3 linked regions of the Homo sapiens genome follow. The protein of the gene in region 3 purifies or fractionates together with the protein of the main gene of each other region. This does not show direct contact. Each region holds a gene or a part of one and is shown on either strand. Other genes may lie near its edges.

Region 1 (7,844 bases), on a different chromosome or scaffold from region 3:
AGGTGCGTACCACCACGTCTGGGTAATTTTTGTATTTTTAGTACAGACAGGGTTTCACCATGTTGGCCAGTATGGTCTTGATCTCCTGACCTTGTGATCCGCCCGCCTCGGCCTCTCAAAATGCTGGGATTACAGACGTGAGCCACTGCGCCTAGCCCGACTGCATCTTCTTTTCCTCTTTTCGCAAGTCCAAGCAATCTTCTTACATTACATTTGATGTAGAAACTGTACTTAAAAACTCTTCATTTCTCTACTGATATACAGCATTTGGATCCCTATCAGCATTTCCCCCATTGTCCTACATGCTTTGCAAATACTCTAATCCTCACACTAACCCACTGAATTGTGCACTTTTATTGCATATATTTGACAGATGAGGAACTGGTGGGACAGACACTGAGTAACCTGCCCAAGGTCACAGAGCTGCTAAGTGGCAATCAGAATTCAATCCCTGCCGTCTGAATGCAGCCCTTCAGGGCTGGCTACAGAGTCTCTCTCTTCATACAGTACTACACTCTGCTGCCTCACATTTTTTACATTTATTAGTAAATATCTGCCCTCATGGTCTCAGATGACAATTTGTCTTTTCTCTCCTGAAATGCCATCTCCTTATCGGTATCTGTAGTTTATGACTACTGACACGTTATTAAAAAACAGTTCCATTTTAGAGACTACTGAACTCTAAGAAATAGAAATGTTTTTCCCAAATTTGAAGACAGTAAAATCCGGGATTCTTTCTCTCAAATTTTTAATTTCCATTTTCTTATATGCTGCTTTAAAAAAAAGGTTTAATTTTCAAAACGTTAGAGTATTTTGCCGATACCCTAACAACTATTAAAATAACCACTGTGAATTTAAGTAAGCCTAATGTTTTTATGTTAGCATGGTAGCCTCTCTGAAAACAAAAACTAAAATAACAAATTGTACTTTAAAAAACTTCCAGTAATCAAGACAGAAGCATGGAAATATGCCTCTTCATGGTTCGTTAAGACAAAGGTCTTTTCTTCCCCTTCCAAATTAATTCTGTGGAGTGGTTTTAATTTCTGAATTCAAAAGGCAATTATAATTCATGGAAAGAGAAATGGCAGAAGAGGAAGGAAAGACATTAAGCACCAGCAGTGAAGGAATACATGAAAAGAAGAAGACAGAATATGCTTTCATAGTGGAACACTGTTGATTGATGATTTATAAAACCAATATTCCAAAGGGATTAAGGTCAGGATTAGGACCTTTATATGCTGATTGTGGTTCCGATTTAAGCTCCTAACAGTAGTTGTCTTGAACTGAGAGCTCTTATTTAAAACAATCCTTCACTAAAAGAGCTTCAAATTATCTTACAGGTGCTTTAAAAAAAGATATTTCTAAAATTTTTTGTAAAATATTGTCTTTGTTTCAGAAACTATTTCCACTTTTTTAAAGATCAACTTAGAAACTAAGGTTGTAAAAATACTGACAGATAACATTAATGCGTGGCAAGAAGGTAAGGCCAGGAGAGCTGATGTTCGCAGAGCACCACTGCATGCCAGGCACTGTCCCAGGAAACTGACTGAGACCTTATCTATTTGCTCACCATCACATTTGGGCACTTTCCAAGTACCACCGGGTGGAGTGGAAGCACTCAGCTAATGTCTGCTGAGTGGTTAACAAGTGGGACAATCTATACAACTGAGAATTCAACTACAGTGACCTTTTAATTCCCATGAATGTTCTTTTTCCATATTAGAGAAAAAAAAATCTGACTTCCAAGGCCAAGCCACCAAAAATTTTATGTGGCTAATTCACATCAGATATCATTCTGAAAATCTCGTATATTACTATCAGTTATTTGCTTAATGAAAAACCTATTTATTTCAACTAATGCTTTATGGTCCCTTCATATAAATTAGGATACGAAAATCTAGTTTAGCACTGTAGCGCCTTAGAAATCCTCCACACTGTTAAGAGCAGGGAATTGCTACGACACAGCCTAGAATCCCCTTAGCAGCGTGTCTGGAATTCTTCCAGATTCCGTCAAGCTTCAAAACTGAACAGCACCACCCACAAACCAACTTTTACCTGCCCATTCCCGGGCCTTCTAATATGCACTTCCCCCAGCCCAGGTCCCCCTACCCGGAACTAATGTTTAAAATTCTCGAGGCTCGTGGCACCCTTTAGTTGCATGTCAGTTAACAAATGCCACTTAAAAGCCCACCGAACTCCTCCCCCAGGACCTGGGGGCAATTTCATGACCTTGCAGGGTTACGGTTTCAGCAAGTGGTTTCAAGGTAGTGCTAGGTGTCCTTCCCTTCCCCGCCCTCAGACAGATCTGTACGGTCCCTTCTGCACCAAAACCACCCTCAGAGGCATCTAGGATGTTCGCCTTTGCTGTTGCAGCACCCAGCAAAGCGTCTGCAACACGGGAGGTGCTCGACGGCCGCGCTCTCTGACTCGATCGAATCTTAAAGGGTCACTCTGTCCAGCACTACAGGGTTTCAAAGGGCGTCAAGGACAAAAAGCACGACTTAACCTTCCCCTGGGCTATTGCTCAGGCTCCCGTCACCTTGCAGGCCCTGAGACTGGGGGCCTGGCTTGCAGTGGAAGTGGAAGCTCAGGAAGTGCTGATTAGCTGAGGGAACTCAAGACCGCCCAGACGTCAATTTGGACTCAGGCCGCAGTCCCGAGGTCCCAGGTGGCCCTCCGACCTCAGGGAACCGGGCGGGACCTTGCTCCGCCGGAGCCCGGCCCTGCGCACACCTTGCCCGACCTCAGAGCCGCTTCCTGCAGCCCCCGCTACCCGGCGCCTCCGACGGGCCAGGGGCCCAGCTAGGCCCTGCGACCCCACATCTGCCCCCGCGCCCATCTCCTCCTCCCTGCCCCGTGCCCAAGCTCTTCCATCCCTTGCGGTCCTGCCGATCTTCCCGCAAGCTGCCATACCATTGCGGCTGCAAGGTCCAGGCCGACAGCCCAGCGACACCCGCGCGAGAGAACATGGTAGCCACAGCCCTGCTGAAGGTCGGTCAGGCAGGCCTCAGCGCGCATGCGCCGAAGCTCCCCAGCGCGCCCCTCCCACCTTGCTCTCTTCTTCAGTCTCGTTTCTTCGCGCTACGGCGAGGGGAGTCTCGCGACCGTTGCAACCCAGTCTTCCCAGGCCCCACCTCCTTCCGCCTCTCAGCTGGGATTTGTCCCGCCCACCGCCGCCAGCCCGGTTCCGTTTCCGGCTGGCTGAGTACTGGGGTCCAGAAAGTGATCGCTGCCGTGGTCGCCATGGGGAAGTCGGATTTTCTTACTCCCAAGGCTATCGCCAACAGGATCAAGTCCAAGGGGCTGCAGAAGCTACGCTGGTATTGCCAGATGTGCCAGAAGCAGTGCCGGGACGAGGTGAGTGGGCCCGGAGTGGCCCCGTCTTCCCAGGAGGGCCCCTGGCAATCCAGGATCAGGTCCTGGACGCGGGGCTGAGGGCGCGGGGCTGGGGCTCCCGGGGTCCGGGTCGTGAGGCTTCTGAGGTCTGCAGTGGGCGAGTCAACTACTCAGCGCACGAGAGCCGTCCCTCCCCGCAGCCCCCGGGCCCAGCGGGCAGCCTGTGTTCTGCGACCCCTCATTCCTCCCCAGTCCGATCCCCACCACCAAAGAAATGAAATCAGAAAAGGTTTTGCACCCCTCACAGGGGCGGGGATACTGCAATACTAGACGCCCGGGCAATGCCAGTAACAGTCATCAGCTCTTACTTGACTTGACTCTTAAGAGAAACAGGGTGGTTAGGATTCACTCCTCTTTTGGGATCAGGTGAAAAAGGAGAGCTAAGCTCTTCCACACTACTCATCTAGCAAGCATTTATTGAGCACCTACACTGTACCGGGCACAGAATAATATTGTGGTTAAAATTATGGATTTATCTGGTTTATGGATATATCAGACTGTCAAAATTTAAAGTCAAGCAGGGCCACTTACCAACCGTGTGGTCTTGGGCAAGTTATTTACTTATATTCCCCTTTACTTATCTGTAAAGAGGGAATAATAATTTCACCTACTTGTAGGATTGTCGCTGAGTTTTAAATGAGTGAAGTATATATAGAGTGGCTCAAGGAGTCTGGGCAGATCTCGAAAAGCCTTATATGGCTACACTATGGAATTTACACTTTTCCCCATTAAAGAGGTGGTTGATTGAATGCTGTGCAGGCTAGTGATGTGATCATATTTTTCTCCGGAGATTGGACTGGATTGGGTAAGGGTGGAAGAACACTGAGGCAATTGGAATAATCTAATCCAGTGTTTCTGCAAGTGAAGGAAGAGGTATTTTAGGTAGGACTCATACTAATATTGATACAGTTACTCTCTTTAGTTCTATTAAGGAATACCTGTATATGCATTATCTAATGTCTTAGTCTGCTTGGACTGCCATATAAAGTGCAGTAGACTGGGTGGTTTAAATGACAGAAATTTATTTCTCACAGTTCTGGAGGCTGGGAAGTTCAAGATCAAGGTGCTGGCATGGTCAGATTCTAGTGAGGGTCCTCTTCTTGGTTTGCGAAACTGCCTCTATCCTCACAAAGCAGATAGAGCAAGCTCTAATAGAAACTTCTCTTCCTCTTTTTTTTTTTGAGATACGGTCCCACCCTGTTCATCATGCAGGCTCTACCCTTGTGACCTCATCTAAATCCAGTCATCTCCAAAGGCCCACCTTTTAATTCCATTCCCTTGGGGGTTAGGGTTCAATATATGAACTTTGAGGGGACGCAGACATGCAGTCTGTAACACCCAGACTTAACACTTTAAGTAATTTTGCCGTATTTACTTTTTAAAAAATATTTTAAGGTAAATACCAATATCAGGATATTTCACCTTTAAATACTTAAATAGGCATCTCTAAAATTTCAGGATACTTTTCTATATAACCATAGTATATGTCATCAACATAACACAATTAATAGAAGTTCCTCTTTATCATCTAATACACATTCACACTTCCTCAGTTGTCCTCCAACTGCTCCTTGAAATCAAGATTCGATCAAAAGCAATAGACTGTTATAGGTTTGGTTATTAGGACCTCCGCTCCCCTCTCCAGTCTCCCTCATCATCAACATCCTGCAACGAGGTGTTATATTTGTTACCATGGATGAAACTACATTGACACATCAGTATCATCCAGAATCCATAGTTTACATTAGGGTTCACTCTTGGTGTTGTACATCCTATGGGTTTTGACAAATGCATAATGATACGTATTCACCATTATAAAATCTCACAAAATAGTTTAACTGCCCAAAAAGTCCTCTGTGCTCTGAGTTATTAGGACTTTTAGTTTTCTCCAAATTTAATTTTCTCTATATTCTGAATTTAGAATATAACCCATTTTCCCTCCACCCCTTTTTCTTTTTTTTTTTTTTCTAGACAGAGTCTCACCTGTCTCACAGGCTGGAGTGCAGTGATGCGATCTCAGCTCACTGCAACCTTTGCCTCCCGGGTTCAAGTGATTCTCATGCCTCAGCCTCCCAAGTAGCTGTCCCAGCTACTTTACAGGCTGGGATTACAGGTGCCTGGCACCACACCTGGCTAATGTTTGTATTTTTGGTAGAGGCGAAGTTTTGCCACGTTGGCCAGGCTGGTCTCAAACTCCCGACCTCAGGTAATTCACCTGCCTCGGCCTCCCAAGGTGCTGGGATTACAGGTGTGAACCACTGCGCCCAGCCGTCTTTTTCTTGACATTGACTTGTTGAAGAGAGGAGGCCAGGCTGTTGTCCTGTAGCATCCCATATATGTTGACTTGTTTCCTCTGGTTGTCTTTTGCCTTCTAACTCGTAGTTTCTGTCAACTGGAAATTATATCTAAAAGCTTTGATTGGGTTAGATTAAACATTTTGGGGAGAAAGAATACTTTGTAGGTGATCTTGATAGATTAATTTCAGGTTAAACATTTGCAGGGAGGAATATGATTTTTTTTTTTTTTTTTGAGACAAGGTCTCAATTGGTAGCCCAGGCTCGTGTACAGTGGCGCGATCATGGCTCACTGCAACCTTGACCTTCCCAGCTCAAGCAATCCTCCTCCTGCCTCAGCCTCCCAAGTAGCTGGGACCACAGGTGATTGCCACCATGCCTAATTAACTTTTTTATTTGTATAGAGATAGGGTCTCCCCATGTTGCCCAGGCTGGTCTCAAACTCCTGAACTCAAGCACTCCTCCTGCCTCGGCCTCCCAAAGTGCTAGGATTACAGGCTCAAGCCACCATGCCCAGCCTATAGTATTCTTTATAGGTGATCTTGTATATCTCATATAGCATCATATAAGGAAGCCAATAATGTTTGGTAGTACTTAAATTGAGTAAAGGTGACAGCTTGTAAATAATATTAGAAAGTATTATTTTCCCCCTTGTAAGAGCAAGTGAGTATTGGGGTAATACTTAGAAATCATACCTATATATCTAGTTTCCCATTAACCTTTTACCTGTGTGTTTTAGCATCCTTGCCTGAGTCAGTTATTTTATTAGGAGTTGCAAAGAGGTTATTTTTCTAATTTTTTTTTAACATTTATGATTGGCTGCCATGCTTTTGTACAAATGAGCTTTTGCTCATCAACTAGGGCTATTTGGTTATCCTTAAACTTATTTTTTTTTGTTTTTGAGACAGGGTCTTACTCTTGCCCAGACTGGAGTACAGTGGCTCGATCATAGCTCACAGCATCCTCCAACTCCTGGGCTTAAGCAATCCTCCCGCCTCAGCCTCTCAAGTAGCTGGGACTATAGGCACATACCACCCATGCCTGGCTAATTTTCAAAAAATATCTTGTGGAGATGGAGGTCTCATTGTGTTGCTCAGGTTGGTCTTGAACTCGGAGGCTCACACAATCCTCCTGCCTTGGCCTCCCAAAGTGCTGGGATTACAGGCATGAGCCACTGTGTCTGGCCATCCTTAAATGTTAAACTGAGATGCAATTTTTTTGGGAAAGGAGTAAAGGATTAATTCTTTTCTGTAATCTCCTGATACTGGAAGGCTGAAGAGAATGAAGGTCAGAGCCAGGGTATCCCCCCAATCTACTCCTGGGTTTCTAGGATTTAGTAACTGTATTGTTTGTTCATTTTATTTTATTTTTTAATATATGGAAAGTGATACTGTTTATTTATGAGGCTGATACCAAGTTTCTTTTAAAAATAAATTTAAATAATAACTATGATTCTTATAGGGCACAGATGAGGCAAAAATTGTGTAAGAGGTCCATGATCTAAAGATTAGGAAACTATTTGAAGCAAAATCGAGTGTGGAAATCTGGACGGTGTCAGTGAGATTGATCAGAGGGACTGAATATGGGTTATTAAGAAGCTGAATAGACTTCCTATTAAATTGGAGGTAGAAAGAGAAGAAGGAATCTAGGATGTTGTCTGGTTTCATGGCTTGGGTGCTTGTGCTTCAGATAGAGATAGGGAATACAAGAAAGGCACATTTTTTGTTTCTATTACTAGTGAAGAATGAGGGTCAAATATTAAGGAGAGGTATACTAAGTCAAAACTTGTATGTTTTTTTCCTGTCATTTTAAGAAGGTACAGATTTAATATGTTTAACAAGGTTAATATAATATGCAGCAATGTATTTTGGATAATGAGCTGAAGTAGAGGAAAGTGAGCGAAAGTAGTTTCTGTGGTGAAAATTCACTAATGACCCATTTTACTCCTTTGAGCACTTGTCTGACACTTTGTATAAAGTATGTGCTCAATGAGAATTGATTAACTTAAGTCTAAAAAATGGAATCTCTCTTCTGTTTCTGTGCCTGGTATGTTTCTTATTAATGTCTGTTTTCTACAACACTCTTTTGCTGTCTCTTTGATCTCAAGGATTATTCTTTGATTAGCAGAGTTGAAAGCTCAACTCTATAAAAATT
Region 2 (7,000 bases), on a different chromosome or scaffold from region 3:
CCCCTTTTTTTTTTTAGCTATACTTGCTGGAGTGGGCGGAAGACCCCTTTTCAGTGTGCCAGGTATGGGAGTGCAGAGATGAAGGCACAGTGCCCAGCCTAAAGACCTTCATAGCCTGGTAGGGCAGCCATATAAACGGATGGCAGCCACGCAGAGAACAGAGAATGAGGTAGTTACATGCGGGTGCCTGGGGGGCTGCTGCAGGAGCCCCCAGAAGGCGTCCCTCTGATGGGGTGGGAGATCCAAAAGGGTTTCTGGGGGGAGGTGAGGATTGAGCTGGGTCGAGAGGACATTCCGGCCTGGAGAACTGCCACACAGAGCCAGGCGTGTTCCAGGAATGGTGAGGGGTTAGGTGTTACTAGAGCAGGGGGCCACGTGGTTAGTGAAGGAGGAGAGCTCACTGAGGGCATGCGTGCTGGCAGCAGGTGGCTTAAGCAGAGGGCTGACATGGTCGGATTTGCCTTGCTCTGGGAGGTGGATGGGAAAGCCGTATGGCAGCAGATAGGGAGGAGGCGCCAGCAGTGGGGATGATGGTGGGCATGTTTGCAGTTGACATGGAAAGTGCTGGGTTGTGGCTTGGGCTGGGGGCCAAGAGGGCTGAGTCCAAGGCGGTTTGCCTGCCCACCACTACAGCAGGGGCTACACGAGGTGGTCAGGTCAGGCAGGACAAGGGAAGGCCCGTTTTGGACAAGCTGAGTCTAGAATGTCTCTGGGGACATCCAGGAGCCAATGTTTAGCAGGAGGTTAGGTATGAGTCTGGGCCACAGAGAAAACCCTTTCGGGGATAAGAGTGGCTGGGAGGAAGGTATAGGGTGTCAGCTGAAGAGTGCAGACCCCAGAGGGAGCAGAATAACAGTGGGAGGAGGGTGTTGCGAGGGGACCTCAGGAGGGTAACTTAGCAGCAGAGCAAGGAGTTCAGGGTGACCTCCGGCCTGGGCGGTTAGGAGGCCACTGGTGGCCCTGCTGCTGGCTTGGAAGGGCAGGCCTTGGCCAGCCTAGGTTGAGGAATATATGGGAGGGAAAAGACCAGGGGCTTGGGCAGGGTGACTCCAGGAAGGAGGCAGTTGAAGGTGAGGTTCCTGGGGGGAGAATGATCCCGGGTCATCCAGCAGGAAGAGAGAGGACCTAGAAGGTGTGAAAAAGAACTATCGGGCTGGGGGTGCAGTGGGAGGAGTATGCCCGGGGTGCTGTGGGGGTGGGGAGCGCCTGTGAGGGTTGGCAAGAGGAAGGGGAACCGGGGCCTGGCAGAGGGGAGCCCCAGACTGTCTCAAGGCTGGGAACTGAAGGCCTGGGCTGGGGCTGAGCAGGGCCAGGCTTTCGGACACACACAGCGTGGATCTTGCGCTGGACTTTGTGTATGCCCTGGCCTATCTTGGAAGCCCTGGTTCTCAATAGCCGGGAAGGGCCTGGGACGGTCCGAAAAGAGCTGGGCCTCTGCTGCACTGCCGCGGAAGCATTTGTGTTAGCTATCTCCCTGGGTACTGGGGTGACAGCCATGGGCACTCACCAGCAGCCGCTTGCCTGGCCTGGTGGCGGGGAGTATAGCCTTCAGTCTTGCTTGGTCCTCTCTCTACCACCAGGTGGCATGACCCCCACCCCTCAATTCCAGCTGGGAGGAGCGGTCCTCTTCCTCTTTCTACATCACTGGGATCCGCTCTGGGGCTGGGCAGCTCCTTGCCGGGGGCCTGGGTCTTAGTCAGACTTGCCTTTCTTTCTAGGCCTCTCCATTGACTTCTGGCCATGCCGATGTGAGTCAGATGCATTGTTTCTCTCTGGCTCCTAGGGCGCTCAGTAGCTTCCTCCACCTTCAGGCTGTAGCCCAGTGCGGGGCAGGCTGGTGGGCAGCTGGGGGCTGAGGCAGGGAAACCTGAGCCCTAGGCCACGAGGTCCTGGGCCGCTAATTTTAGAAAGCACATGTCACTGGAAACTCTCCTTCTCTGCCAGGAATCAACGGCCTGGCTCTCCTGGTGCTGCCAGGGGCCCCTGGGAGCCTCTCCCCAAACCAGGAACCTCAGGGGTGTCTCCTGGCCCGGGTGGGTACTTTCTGTCCTGAGTACATCTGGAAAGGGGCTCTGCCGAGGCCCTGGAGAGCCATGGCTTGGGCCAGGGAGGTAGCTCACCTTGTCTGCTCTTTACTTTCTCCAGCCCTTCCGGGCTGCCCCTGGCCATGAGCAGAGGCTGTGAAGTGTGAAGGCCTGGCTGGGGCAGGAGGCCACTTCGACTCTTCTGAGTAAGCTGTTGTTGAAGCACTCTGGACTAAGCAGATTTGTCTCTTCCTTCCCCCAGGCCCTGTGTGACCCTTGCCTTCTGAGGTGTGTGAGAAAGGAACCCCTGCCTTGTTTTGACTGTTTGAACGAGTCCTTCCCTCCTCTCTTCCTGCCAGCTAACATCTCGGGGCAAGGGTGAACCAAGGGAAATGAAGTGGCCATTCCAATCTCTGTTTGGGGACTAGCATCTGCCTCCAGCTGCCACCTGTTTGCCTGTCTCTCCTGGCTGCTTCAGAGAGGCAGCCTGCGCCTGTGTCCTGATTCCTCTACACCCTCCAGCCCAAGAAGACCTCATTCGGGGTGCTGTTACATAACGGATGTGTTCCAGCGCAGCCTGCATGATGGGTTGGGAAGGAGGCTGGCCAGAGAAGAGAGTTCTATCTTACGTTGGGACCTGGGAGCTGTTCCCTGTTAGTTTAGAGAGCAGAGTGGTTCCGAGCTCAGGTTCTGGAGTCAGGCAGACATAATTTGGAATTCCAGCCATGTCCATTTCTGGTTTTTGGCCTTGGGTACATTGATTTACGCTGCTGAACTTCAGTTTCCTCTTCTATAAGCTGGGGCAGTGATAGTAACTTCCTCATCAGGTAGATGTGAGGATGCGGCCTGGCATGTTGGAAGTGCTTGGATTGATTAGCTTCTCTCGTTACCTTACCAAGGCAAGCCCAGCCTCGCAGGGAGGAAGGTGGTGCTGTGGCTTGTCTGGCACGTCTAGGCCCCGACCCGGAAAGTGCCGCGTTCTGGGACCTCATGCTGTAGCGAGGCTCTTCCCAGCCCCCCAGGCTCCTGCTTCCAGCCCCTCTGAGAGCTGAGGGTGGCCGTTGGGCACAGCGGCAGAGGACGGCTCCTGGGCCCCACCTTTTCCCTCACGCTGCCAGCACCAGGTTGGCGGCTTCTCACTCGGCTGCCTTGGCAAGAGGGCAGGTCCAGGCTGGAGCTAGGTGTGGAGTGGGAGCAACCAGGAGGTGCTCCTGCCAGCCCTTCATGCTCTTTTTCTCACTTCTCCCTTCTTTTTGTAAATAATTGCAGCCTGCTTAGACGCCTGGTGACTCTCATTTCGCAGCAGGCCACGCTGCTGGCCTCCAATGAAGCCTTTAAAAAGCAGGCGGAGAGTGCTAGTGAGGCGGCCAAGAAGTACATGGAGGAGAATGACCAGCTCAAGAAGGTGAGCCCAGCTTCCCGACCCACCATGGGGCGTCCTGGTGTTACACTGTGGGAGCCACATTCTTCAGGGCCTCAGTGGCCACTGCTAGCCTGTCACGCTGGGAAATGTGCCTGAAAAGCCAGAGTTGGGTGGAGGCGCAGAGGGGAAGTCCTCAGTGGGGAGAGTATGCCTGCTGGAGGCGTCTGTGTGTGAGGGTCCGGGTGAGGAGGAGGGTGTTGCTGCTCTCGTTTCCATCCACTGCTTCCAGTTAGACCCTTCCCTGAGAAAAATGGCCCCTCAGTGAGCCAGGCCCTCTGCTGTGATCCGAAGGCCCTCAGCTAGGCCCTTGTTCCCTGCAAGATTGCCGCACCCCCTCTGGAACTCGGGGTCTGTGGCATCCCTCAGTGCTGGAGAGGAGGTGGGGGCAGGGTAGTTGGCCAGTCTTAGACGTCCCGTCAGGAGGTGAGCTGCAAGGCAAGCTCGGAGGGATGTGGATGCAGAGGTGGGATAGAGCTGGCCAGGCCGACTGGGGGCTCCTAACTGCAGTGAGCGGCACCATGTAGGGAGCACGAGGCACCGCCATCTGTGGAGGGGTTGGTGAGCACCATGGAGCTGCTGAGCCCTGCTGCTTGGGAAGGAGGCAGGGCCAGGGGCCAGGGGCCAGGGGCCAGGGCAGGCAAGGCGTGCCCGGCGAGCTGCAGCAGGTGGCCCCGCTGGCGCTTCTCTTTCCCTCGGCGGGCAGCCACGCCCTGGCCTTTGCCTAGGAGCTGGGAGCAAGTGGTGGCTCGGTTCCGCGTTGACATTTCCGAAGGGGCGTGTGGCCAGGGCAGCTTGAGGAACCGCAGCTCGGTGGGGAGGATGGGGCTGGAACCTCTCCCTCCCTCCCTCCTGAGTAACCCTGGCCTTTGGCACTTTTCCCAGGGAGCTGCTGTTGACGGAGGCAAGTTGGATGTCGGGAATGCTGAGGTGAAGTTGGAGGAAGAGAACAGGAGCCTGAAGGCTGACCTGCAGAAGCTAAAGGACGAGCTGGCCAGCACTAAGCAAAGTGAGGCTCGACCTCGTGTCCTTCCCCGCAGGGAAGTCCAGAGGAGCCTCCTCTGCCCGCTGCTGCCCATTTTGTGCCAAAGTATTAGTAACAAGCCTTGCACGCACGCTCGAGGGCTGGCTGAAAACAGACCAATAGCACCCTGCGCCTCCAACCCCAATGCAGCCATGCTTAGCCGGCAGGCCAGTGAGGCTAAGTGGTTTGAATGGGGCTCAGGAGGAACCAGGCTGCAGTTGGTGGGCCTCGATTGCCCTGCACTAGAGCAGTGCATGCTGGGGCTTTCCCGTCCAGAGTGTGGCACGGTAGCCCCAGCATGCCTGGGGGCTGAGAATGAGGGGAGTGTGGGAGTGGCGTTCAGGAGGGGAGTGGGCGGCTCCCAAGCGGCCTGCCTGTCTTTGGTCTCCCACGCATAGACTTAAGTCTGGGGCGTTTTCCCCCAATACCACAGGCCTCGCCTGCTGCTGCTGTGTGCAAGGCGTGGTTGTCATTGGGTCTCGCTTGCAGGCTGGGATCTTGCTCCCTGTCTCCCACTCTCAGCCTCCCTGGAGGTTACCCTTGCCGAGAGCCACTAGAGTTCCTCTCCATTAAAGGGACTGGGGGATGGCCTCTGTGTTTCTTTTGCTTTATCTTGAGCTTTTTTGTCAGCCCTTTCCCTCTACTTTGGGGGCCTGCAAAAGCAGAGGGGCTTTATTTTGAGAAGTAGCCTCCTGTATAACCTCGTTTGAGATAGATTTGGGCCAGTTTCTGGTGTCTGTAGCAGTCGGGTTTTTTCCCCCTAATTCCTGTCTTTTCGTTTCTGTTTTCTTGGTCATTTACATCATTTCAAGAACTAGAGAAAGCTGAAAACCAGGTTCTGGCCATGCGGAAGCAGTCTGAGGGCCTCACCAAGGAGTACGACCGCTTGCTGGAGGAGCACGCAAAGCTGCAGGTCAGCCCTCCCGTATTGCTGCGCCCAGGGCAGGAGAGCAGAGCAGGATGAGGCAGCCCCTGCGGGTGCGGAGGGAACCTTCCAGGGGCCCAGGGGCTGGCTGCCCTCTCCACCACTCCCCCTGGCCACCTCTGCCCTACTGAGTGGGACCCTTCACCGGGCAGGAGGGGGGTGGCCTGGCAGCAGATGTAGGCACTTGCCAAGGCGGCCCTCAGGAGTGGCACTGGCTCACTAGGCTCTGAGCCTTCCTACCTTCGTGCTCAGGCGCAGCCATGGTTTGGGGCCTGGTCAAGAACAAAGAAGCAGGTGAAACTCTGGGACCCACTGCTGGCCTTCTTTCCTAGGGTGCTGGGGAGTGACGTAGGGCAAAGATCCCTGGGCAAGTGAGGGCACAAGGTGTCAAAAAGGCACCTTCCCTAGCAGGCGCTAGTTGTGGCCATCACCTGCTGCCCTAGGCCTGATCTGAGTCCTCAGACTAGCTTGGGTGCACCAGGCCGCATCTGGAAGCCCAGGCGGTCTTGACGTTGGGAGTGAGGGCCACATAAATACTCCTAACTTTGGACAGCTGGCCTCAGTGCTTGGTGGCCCAAGTTTGGGCACCACAGCAGGTGGGGAGGAAGGGTCCAGCCTCAAAGGGGGCACCCATGCCCTCTGTATGGGGCAGGCTTGGCAGATGGGCTTCGAGGGCACCTGTCAAAGGTGTGCAGAGTTGGGAAGGGTCTGATCAGGTCTTGAAGGGGACTGGATGCCTTGCTGTTCCCTGCAGCCAGGACTCAGCCCCCAGTGAGGTCCTGGCAGTCCTCCCTGGCTGGCGTTAGGTCCAGGGCTTTCCCTAGAGCGTGGGCCAGGGCTGACGCTCCCACCCTGGCAGGCCTTTGGGTGCAGCTGGGGAGGGGGCCCCTTGTTCACTTGAATAGCTGTTGTTAGGAGAGAGGGGAACCGAGGTGGACCTCTGGGGCATGGGGCTGGAGGTGGCAGGGGAGGAGTGGACCCGGCCAACCTACTGCTGTGGGATTTCTGTCCCTTTCCAGGCTGCAGTAGATGGTCCCATGGACAAGAAGGAAGAGTAAGGGCCTCCTTCCTCCCCTGCCTGCAGCTGGCTTCCACCTGGCACGTGCCTGCTGCTTCCTGAGAGCCCGGCCTCTCCCTCCAGTACTTCTGTTTGTGCCCTTCTGCTTCCCCCATTCCCTTCCACAGCTCATAGCTCGTCATCTCGGCCCTTGTCCACACTCTCCAAGCACATTACAGGGGACCTGATTGCTACACGTTCAGAATGCGTTTGCTGTCATCCTGCTTGGCCTGGCCAGGCCTGGCACAGCCTTGGCTTCCACGCCTGAGCGTGGAGAGCACGAGTTAGTTGTAGTCCGGCTTGCGGTGGGGCTGACTTCCTGTTGGTTTGAGCCCCTTTTTGTTTTGCCCTCTGGGTGTTTTCTTTGGTCCCGCAGGAGGGTGGGTGGAGCAGGTGGACTGGAGTTTCTCTTGAGGGCAATAAAAGTTGTCATGGTGTGTACGTGGTGCGGTGTGTGACTGCAGCTGTGGGGAGGGCTCTGCTTTCTCTCCTGCCTGGAGCCCCCAAGCGGCCACAGCCCTTCAACCTGTTTCCCCCACTGAAGGCCAGG
Region 3 (8,032 bases):
GGAAAAAAGGATGGAAGAAAATAGCAAAGAATATGTGTTAGCCTCAGCCTTTTTCCTCCTGCTTGCTACATCTCATATTCTCCAAATGTTTTATAATGACCCCATACTCCTTTATAAACATTTAATTATACTTTACATATATCCATTTATATATACCCACTGTATTATATAAACATTTTATAAGCAATGACATAAATCAGCAAACCAGCACCACAATTTTTTTAAGATAAAGAACCGATTTCACACACAAGCAACACATACCTGGCTTTAGAGTCTGAGTGTATCCTAAACCTATCAGGCTGGAGTTGTTCACTTTAGCCTAATCAAGGAAATGACAAAACAGAGAAAACATTAAGTATAATACTTTGCACTTCCATCTCCAAAATTAGAGCTTTTTAGTCAACCAACCTTGGACTTTAGAATCAAAATTTTTCATGACCACCTTGTTCATGAGATTCATTAAATTCAATACAAAATACATCAATTTTAGGTGCATACCTTTCTGTTCAAAGGGTGTGCTGAGATCTGACACCCCTCATAAGAACAAAGCAGAGAGAAGGAAGGCCTCTTAGGGGCCAGTGTCCTTTTGCTCATATAAATAATGAGGCTCCTTTTCTCTTGTTTTTAAGTGCTTGCTGTTAAGGGAGCCAAATTCGGTTCTAGTTTAGGAGACTTAAAAAGGGCTGTCCATAAATTACACAAACCAGTACAGACACCATTCTGCAACATGAGATTCCCTCATTTCACCCCAAAGAGATACAGCCGCCAGTGCCCTGTGACAACAGAAATGAGCCCAATAGGATTTACTGCAAAAACTGTGTAGTAGTTCGAGGGCCTGTGAGCAATGCCAGAGACTCTGCAAGATGCCAACTGACTATTGATTTCTTAATATGCAATGCAGGAGCTGAAAAGGAGAATGAAAAGTGAGGCGGGGCGGGGGGAATTATCAATTAGAACCCTAGATTTCAGAGTGCCCCTTTTAACAGTCCGCATGATAGAACAGGAACTGGTATTAATGGAAGAGGCTTAACAGTAAGCCAGTCTGGTTCAAATCCAGCTCCCAGCACTTTCCTGCTGTGTACCTTTGAGCAAGTTACTCACCTAAGTTTCTAGTTCCTCATTTGTAAAAACAGAGATGATTGGCCAGGGGCCATGGCTCATGCCTGTAATTCCAGCATTTTGGGAGGCCGAGGCAGGCAGATCACCTGAGGTCAGGAGTTCGAGACCAGCCTGACCAACATGGTGAAACCCCGTCTATACTAAAAACACAAAAATTATCCAGGTGTGGTGGTGGGTGCCTGTGTTCCCAGCTACATGGGAGGGTGAGGCAGTAGAATCACTTGAACCTGGGGGACGGAGGTTGCGCAGTGAGCTGAGATCGTGCCATTGCACTCCAGCCTGGGCAACAAAGGGAGACTCCGTCTCAAAAAAAAAAACAAACAAACAGAGATGATTGGCCAGGCATGGTGGCTCATGCCTTGTAATCCCAACATTTGGGAGGTTGAGGTGGGAGGACAGCTTGAGCCCAGGAGTTTGAGACCAGCCCAGGCAACAGAGTGAGACATTGTCTCTACTAAAAATTTTTTTTTAATTAGCCAGGCATGCTGGTGTGCCTATAGTCCCAGCTACTTGGGAGGCTGAGGTGGCAGGATTACTTGAGCACAGGAGGATGAGGCTGCAGTGAGCTGCAATTACACCACTGCATCCAACCTGGGCCTTGTCTCAAAAAAACAAAAAATAAAAAAAACCCAGAGATGATTAAAAAACCAAAGCACCTATTTCAAATGGGATTAAACACAGTAATCTACACAAAAGGCTCTGCACAGTGCCTGGTACCCATAAGAAGTACTAGTAGTATGATCACTGTACTCATTTGGCACTCTTTTCAAAGTGAGAACATCTCTCACTTTGTTTTTGTTTTTTTGAGACGGAGTCTTTTTTTTTTTTTTGAGATAGAATCTCACTCTGTCACCCAGGCTGGAGTGCAGTGACACGATCTCAGCTCACTGCAACCTCCGCCTCCCCGGTTCAAGCAATTCTCCTGCCTCAGCCTCTCGAGTAGCTGGGATTACAGGCACACGCCACCATGCCCGGCTAATTTTTGTACTTTTAGTAGACAGGGTTTCACCGTGTTGGCGAGGCTGGTGTCAGACTCCTGACCTCAAGTGATCTGCCTGCCTTGGCCTCCCAAAGTGCAGGGATTACAGGCGTGAGTCACGGCGCCCAGCAGCATCTCTCACTTTGAGTAAGCTGAAGCACAGCACTCCAGCAAACCTGAAGGATTCCAACATAAAGAGCAGATGGGCCTGCCTGTGAGATGCGTGATTCCACAGATACCCACCGAGAAGCAGGCGTCAGGGTCAATCTGATACTTGGCTGCTATTCCGAAGCGCGTGTTACTGTTTCCTGCTGTCCAGGCAAGATTGACAGCGGTCTCCAACTTCTTGTTCACTTTCTGGTAAATGGAGCCGCCAAACTCTGTCCCGTCATTCCTGCAAACAAGCACAGGACAGATGCTGAGCTTCCCAGGGAGGTGAGCTGCAGCCCAGACAGATCCACCCAAGTCTCCCAGAAGACAGGGATGACAGAAATGGACTGAACCAATACTGGTATTAAGGGAAGTCAGAAGTTCACCAAATTTCACAAAACAGGTACTAAATTACAGGAAGTCTGATAAGTATGGAACAGGCACCTAGCCAGGCACAGTGGCTCACACCTGTAATCCCAGCACTTTGGGAGGCCGAGATGGGCAGATCACTTGAGGTCAGGGGTTTGAGACCAGCCTGGCCAACATGGTGAAACCCTGTTTCTACTAAAAATACAAAAATTGACCGGGCTGGTGCCATACGCCTGTAATCCCAGCTACTCAAGAGGCTGAGGCAGGAGAATCGCTTGAACCTGGGAGGCAGAGGTTGCAGTAAGCCGAGATCGCGCCACTGCACTCCAGCCTGGGCAACAGAGCAAGACATTGTCTCAAACAAAAAAAGAAAAAGCCAGGGGAGAGGGGGTACGTGGTGACTCACGCCTGTAATCCTAGCATTTTGGGAGGCCGAGGCAGCAGGACTGCTTGAGCCCAGGATATAGCTTGGGCAACAGAGCGAGATCCTGTCTCTATAAGGAAAAAAAAAAAAAAGAAGCAGCAAGTAGAGCACTGAGATTCTGAGTGATTTATTTTTACTGCTACTGATGTTATTACTTTTATAAACGATTCTACCAGAAAAATGGCATGGAAGTCCGGGTGCAGTGGTTCATGCCTATAATCCCAGCACTTTGGGAGGCCAAGGCGGGCAGATCATTTGAGGTCAGGAGTTTGAGACCAGCCTGGCTAACATGATGAAACCCTGTCTCTACTAAAAACATAAAAATTAGCTGGGCATGGTGGCAGGTGCCTGTAATCCCAGCAACCTGGGGGGGTGAGGCAGGAGAATCGTCTGAACCCAGGAGGCAGAGGTTGCAGTGAGCTGAGATCTCACCACTGCACTCCAGTCTGGGTGACAGAGTGAGACTCTGGCTCAAAAAATAAAAGTAAAAATAAAAAATGTTATGGAAAGAGAAGAAAATGAGAAGAGAACACAGCCAGAAATGGCAAGAAAGGTGGGGCTGCACATATGCCTCAGAAGGCAAGTTAGAGCCCTTGGCACAACCTGCTGCAGCCACTGCTGGGGAGATACAGTTGGCACTGACCCAGCCTCTTGGAGGAGCAGCACTTCAAAAGAGCTTAATCCACAATTCATCTCGTCCACCTGTGCATACTCCTCACCCATGCTGCAACATCTAAGCCTGGCAGGATTTGAAAGGGAGCTTTTTGCTACATCATAAAATGTCTCCCTCTTTCAAAAACATTCAGAATGAAACCCCAGCTGGCCAAGCTCCCTCCTCTCTTACAAACACACTGAATGACTCCAGTTGCTGGGAATATCCCTTTCCCTTCTTCAGTCATTCAAATTCTCCTCTTCCTCTTTTGGGGCCCTGCTTAAGCTCTCAGAATTTGAAAGTCTGCCCCACCCAGCTGAACAGCCTATACAAACTCTGCAGTCACTGCCACCCCTAAAAAGGCATACGAAGAGCTCAGAGTCTACACTTTGTCCTCTGTCGGGCTGGGGTCGGCACAGATCATAGACTGTCTCTCATTACTGCTTTCAGATTGTTGTTTATACACACAGTGCATACTGGTGCCTGGTCAGAAGCAACCTTCTCCATGGAGGGAACCACAGAAAACAAAAACAGTTAAAGTGGCTGCCACTGCGGAGCTGGGATGAGCAGGCTGAGGCAGGCTGGAATCACTGCTTTTCATAGGCCCATCTGTACTGTTTGATTTTACAACCATGGGTTCAGACTCCTTTGATTAAAAAAATTAAGAAAAATTTTAATGCTGCAATTTTTTAAAAAGGAATGACCATCCTCCTTGCATCAGATGGTCTTCAAGCCTGCCTAGACCCTCTCAAACATCTTTAACATAAAATCAGTGTCTGAGTTCTGCCTCATCATTGTGGGCATTTCCAGTGGAAATGGCATTGGTTAACTGTGAGTCAGAGCCCACGTACTTTGGAATCCAGCAAAGGGCTTCAGGACCTAAGAACAAAAACTCTAGTCTTCACAAGACACTCTCCCTAAATCAGAGAATACATTCTAAATTTTCTTTTTTTTTTTTCCCCAAGATGGGATCTTGCTCTGTTTCCCAGGCTGGAGAGCAGTGGCAAAATCATAGCTCACTGTAACCTCAAACTCCTGGGCTCAAGTGATCACAGGCATGTTGCCACCATGCCCAGCTAATTTTTAAAAAATTTCTTAGAGACAGAGTATTTCTATGTTCCCCAGGCTGGTCCCAAACTCCTGGCCTCAAGTGATCCTCCCGCCTCAGCCTCCCAAGTAGCTAGGATTACACGTATGAGCCACACATTGTAAATTTTCGTTTCCCCATGAAATTCAGCGAGACAGACATTATGCTTCTAGAAAGTACAGGGAGACCCAGGCACTGCCTGATTCACAGAGAATCCTGTCTTCTGTAGACAGCCCAAGTATGCTACAATAAAACAGCAGCCTGTCAAAAATAAGATTTTTGAATGACTTTAGTAATATATTCAAATGGGGAAGTTTCTTGGGCTTACATGTTTTTAAAAAAGGCCAGACTTTTCAGAATATCCTAAAACCAGGAACACAATACTGCCTTCCTGTACAGAGCTTTCAAAACCATAAACAGAAGGCAGATGCAGTGGCTCACACCTGTAATCCCAGCACTTTGGGAGGCCAAGGCGGGCAGATCGCTTGAGCTCACAAGTTCAAGAACAACCTGGGCAACATGGCGAAATCCTGCCTCCACAAAAAATACAAAAATTAGCCAGGTGTGGTGGCATGCACCTGTAGTCCCAGCTACTTGCAAGGCTGAGGTGGGAGTATCACTTAATCCCGGGAGGTGGAGGCTGCAGAGATCGTGCCACTGAACTCCAGCCTGGGTGAGAGAGTGAGACCCTGTCACCAAAAAATAATAATAATAAATAAATAAATACACAGGTGGAACTGTTCAAATTCATCTATATGAAGCACAAAGAATTTCTGTTATGCATTTGGGCCCCTGCAAGCACCAGGGCAACCCAGATGAGTTGTGTCAGCTGCCTTCACGCTGGTTCCAAAAATAAACCATACCCACTTGTTGCTTATTTAAAATGCTGAAGCTCAGATATGTGGGGGAAATGGCTAACAGCCATTGTTCCTCCTAGAATTGGTACTGAAGAATTGGTGCCAATGCCCAATTTCAAACCAAGGAAAACACTTCCCATGCCAATCAGAATTCTACGTTCAAAAACATTTCTATGCATGTGGTATGTTTCCTATAGCTTTTTAGTATGTTTCACCTCTTCTTAATTAAACATATAATAAAATTGATATTTTCTTTGCTTTTTTTTTTTTTTTTTTTTTTTGAGACGGAGTCTTGCTCTGTTGCTCAGGCTAGAGCGCAGTGGCGTGATCTCGGCTCATTGCAAACTCCACCTCCCAGGTTCAAGCGATTCTCCTGCTTCAGCCTCCCAAGTAGCTGGGATTACAGGCACCCGCCACCACGCCCAGCTAATTTTTGTATTTTTAGTAGAGATGGGGTTTCACCTTCTTGACCAGGCTGGTCTTGAACTTCTGACCTCGTGATCCACCCGCCTCGGCCTCCCAAAGTGCTGGGATTACAGGCGTGAGCCACGACGCCCGGCCAAAATGGATATTTTCTTGGTATACATTTTTACGAATTTTAACACACGTACACAGATTAATGTAACCATGACGACAGTCAGAATATAGAACAGTTCCCTCCCCGAAACTCCCTCAGTCACTGCTTTGTAGTCATACCCTCCCCGCCCCCTGCCAACCACTAGATTGTCCATCTCTATAGTTTTCCTGTGACTTTTTAGCTGTAACAGATTCCAAATTAATGATAAAAATTCCTCAAAAAATTTATTAATGGAAATATTAGTTTACACATTAATATCACTGATTTGCCTTAAGTTTAAGAAGTTACTTCTTTAGTGACCTCTAGTGGAAAGAAATAAACATGGTAACTCTGCACCCAGCTTGTGCCTGTCACAGGTTAATTCCTCATGAAACTAAATAAAACAAGGTTTATGGATAAAACAAGATTCATGAATGAAATGTGTTTCCCTTAACTTAAATCATCAATCTACTTCAATTCTCAAGGGGCTCTCTCCTAACCTATAATCACTGTTTCCCTTCACCATACTGTCCAATAGTTACTTTTACATGCTTCACTGTACAGAGAAGATAGTTTGTAACTGAGATAATCAGCTCCTAAATTTGTCTACCATGTCTACATGTCATCAAGCCCAGCAGGCTAATCCTCAGGCATTAGACAGAGAAAGAGAGCTGTTTTGTTAACTAAAACAAAAACTGCAGGGAATGGACACGCTCTGGACTGACACCATGTCCCTGCTGTAATTAATCAGCCACTTTGTGTACCTGTGGCAATATATACTGTTCACAGAGTGGAAAGGATCTAAGACACTCCAGGAAATGGGTAGGTGGGAAACAAAAGATAGCAGCAGGCCATGTGGCTCATCTAATGCCAACAAACTCACTTTACAGTGGTTAAAAACTGGGCTTTCTTAAAAAAAAAAAAAAAAAAACAGTGAAAAGCAATCCCCTTACCACACATGCTCCAACCCCACCCCTCCCACCCTGCTGCCCCCATGTACACTTACACATTAGTGTGAAGCTGGAATTCATCAGTCTTGTAGCCAACTGCAAAGTTGCTCTGGGTCACTCGGGATTTTGCAGTCTCAAAATTCATCTGGTAGCCGGCCAGCCAGCCCTCGTAACCTAGCACCAGAGCACCCCGGATGGAAGGCCCAGCAATGTCGAAATCCATGTCGCAGCCCAGGTTAATGTGCTCCCGCTTGTACCCTGTCTTGATTTTAGCATTTTTTTTCCTGAAGGAAAATAAGTTATATTAAGATCAGAAGCTAACTCACCTTGAAATGCAAGTTGTCTTTTTTTTTTTTTTAATCCCAGGTCAAATAAAGGGAGTGGGGTGGGGGTGAAGTCAGGGCTCCAGTTCTCCCTTAAGCCACTGCTGTACCACAATGAGCAGGACACAACCTCTCTTCCACAGGGACTCAGTCTGCAGAAACCCCACAATAACGAAGTGAGAACACAGACAGGAAAAGCCTGAAAAATAAATACGAAGTAACTTTCTTCTCCTATCCTCTTTGTATGCTTAACGTAGCAGCCTACACAGGCATTCATTAGGTAGAAAGCCACCATGTAATTATGAAACAGATGCATCTTTGATATTTTCCAAACCTGTGGAAAAGATTTATCTGCCATGAAGGCAGCTACCTAAATAGCAGCTTTTAAAGAGACGGTTTTCTTCTTACTCTGTGGCTCACATGGTTAAGTAAGGAAACAAAGGCTATGTTCCCTCTAAGTGAGTACAACAGTAAAATGGATTTCAATTCCATATTCATGAGACCCCAATGAGTACATATTTCAGAGAACCGGGTACTGATGTAGAACCTGGAACTCTGCAGTCATG

The links.
Region 1: the proteins of VDAC1 (region 3) and ATP5F1C fractionate together in Homo sapiens (co-fractionation; 3 studies listed by BioGRID, with this or other methods). This does not show direct contact.
Region 2: the proteins of VDAC1 (region 3) and BCAP31 purify together in Homo sapiens (affinity purification with western blotting; 3 studies listed by BioGRID, with this or other methods). This does not show direct contact.

What each region holds. Positions count from the first base shown.
Region 1 is NC_000010.11:7,783,333-7,791,176, reverse strand, and holds the start of ATP5F1C (ATP synthase F(1) complex subunit gamma, mitochondrial isoform L (liver) precursor), read right to left. Parts: upstream 3,001-7,844; 5' UTR 2,970-3,000; coding exon 2,914-2,969; intron 1-2,913. Other genes in the region: KIN (DNA/RNA-binding protein KIN17), read left to right, coding at 3,244-3,357.
Region 2 is NC_000023.11:153,700,388-153,707,387, reverse strand, and holds the end of BCAP31 (B-cell receptor-associated protein 31), read left to right. Parts: intron 1-3,293; coding exon 3,294-3,429; intron 3,430-4,329; coding exon 4,330-4,453; intron 4,454-5,280; coding exon 5,281-5,381; intron 5,382-6,412; coding exon 6,413-6,451; 3' UTR 6,452-6,896; downstream 6,897-7,000. UniProt on the Homo sapiens protein: Functions as a chaperone protein. Is one of the most abundant endoplasmic reticulum (ER) proteins.
Region 3 is NC_000005.10:133,973,530-133,981,561, forward strand, and holds part of VDAC1 (non-selective voltage-gated ion channel VDAC1), read right to left. Parts: intron 7,666-8,032; exon of another isoform or gene 7,619-7,665; coding exon of another isoform or gene 7,577-7,618; intron 7,470-7,576; exon of another isoform or gene 7,428-7,469; coding exon 7,200-7,427; intron 2,493-7,199; coding exon 2,342-2,492; intron 320-2,341; coding exon 262-319; intron 1-261. UniProt on the Homo sapiens protein: Non-selective voltage-gated ion channel that mediates the transport of anions and cations through the mitochondrion outer membrane and plasma membrane.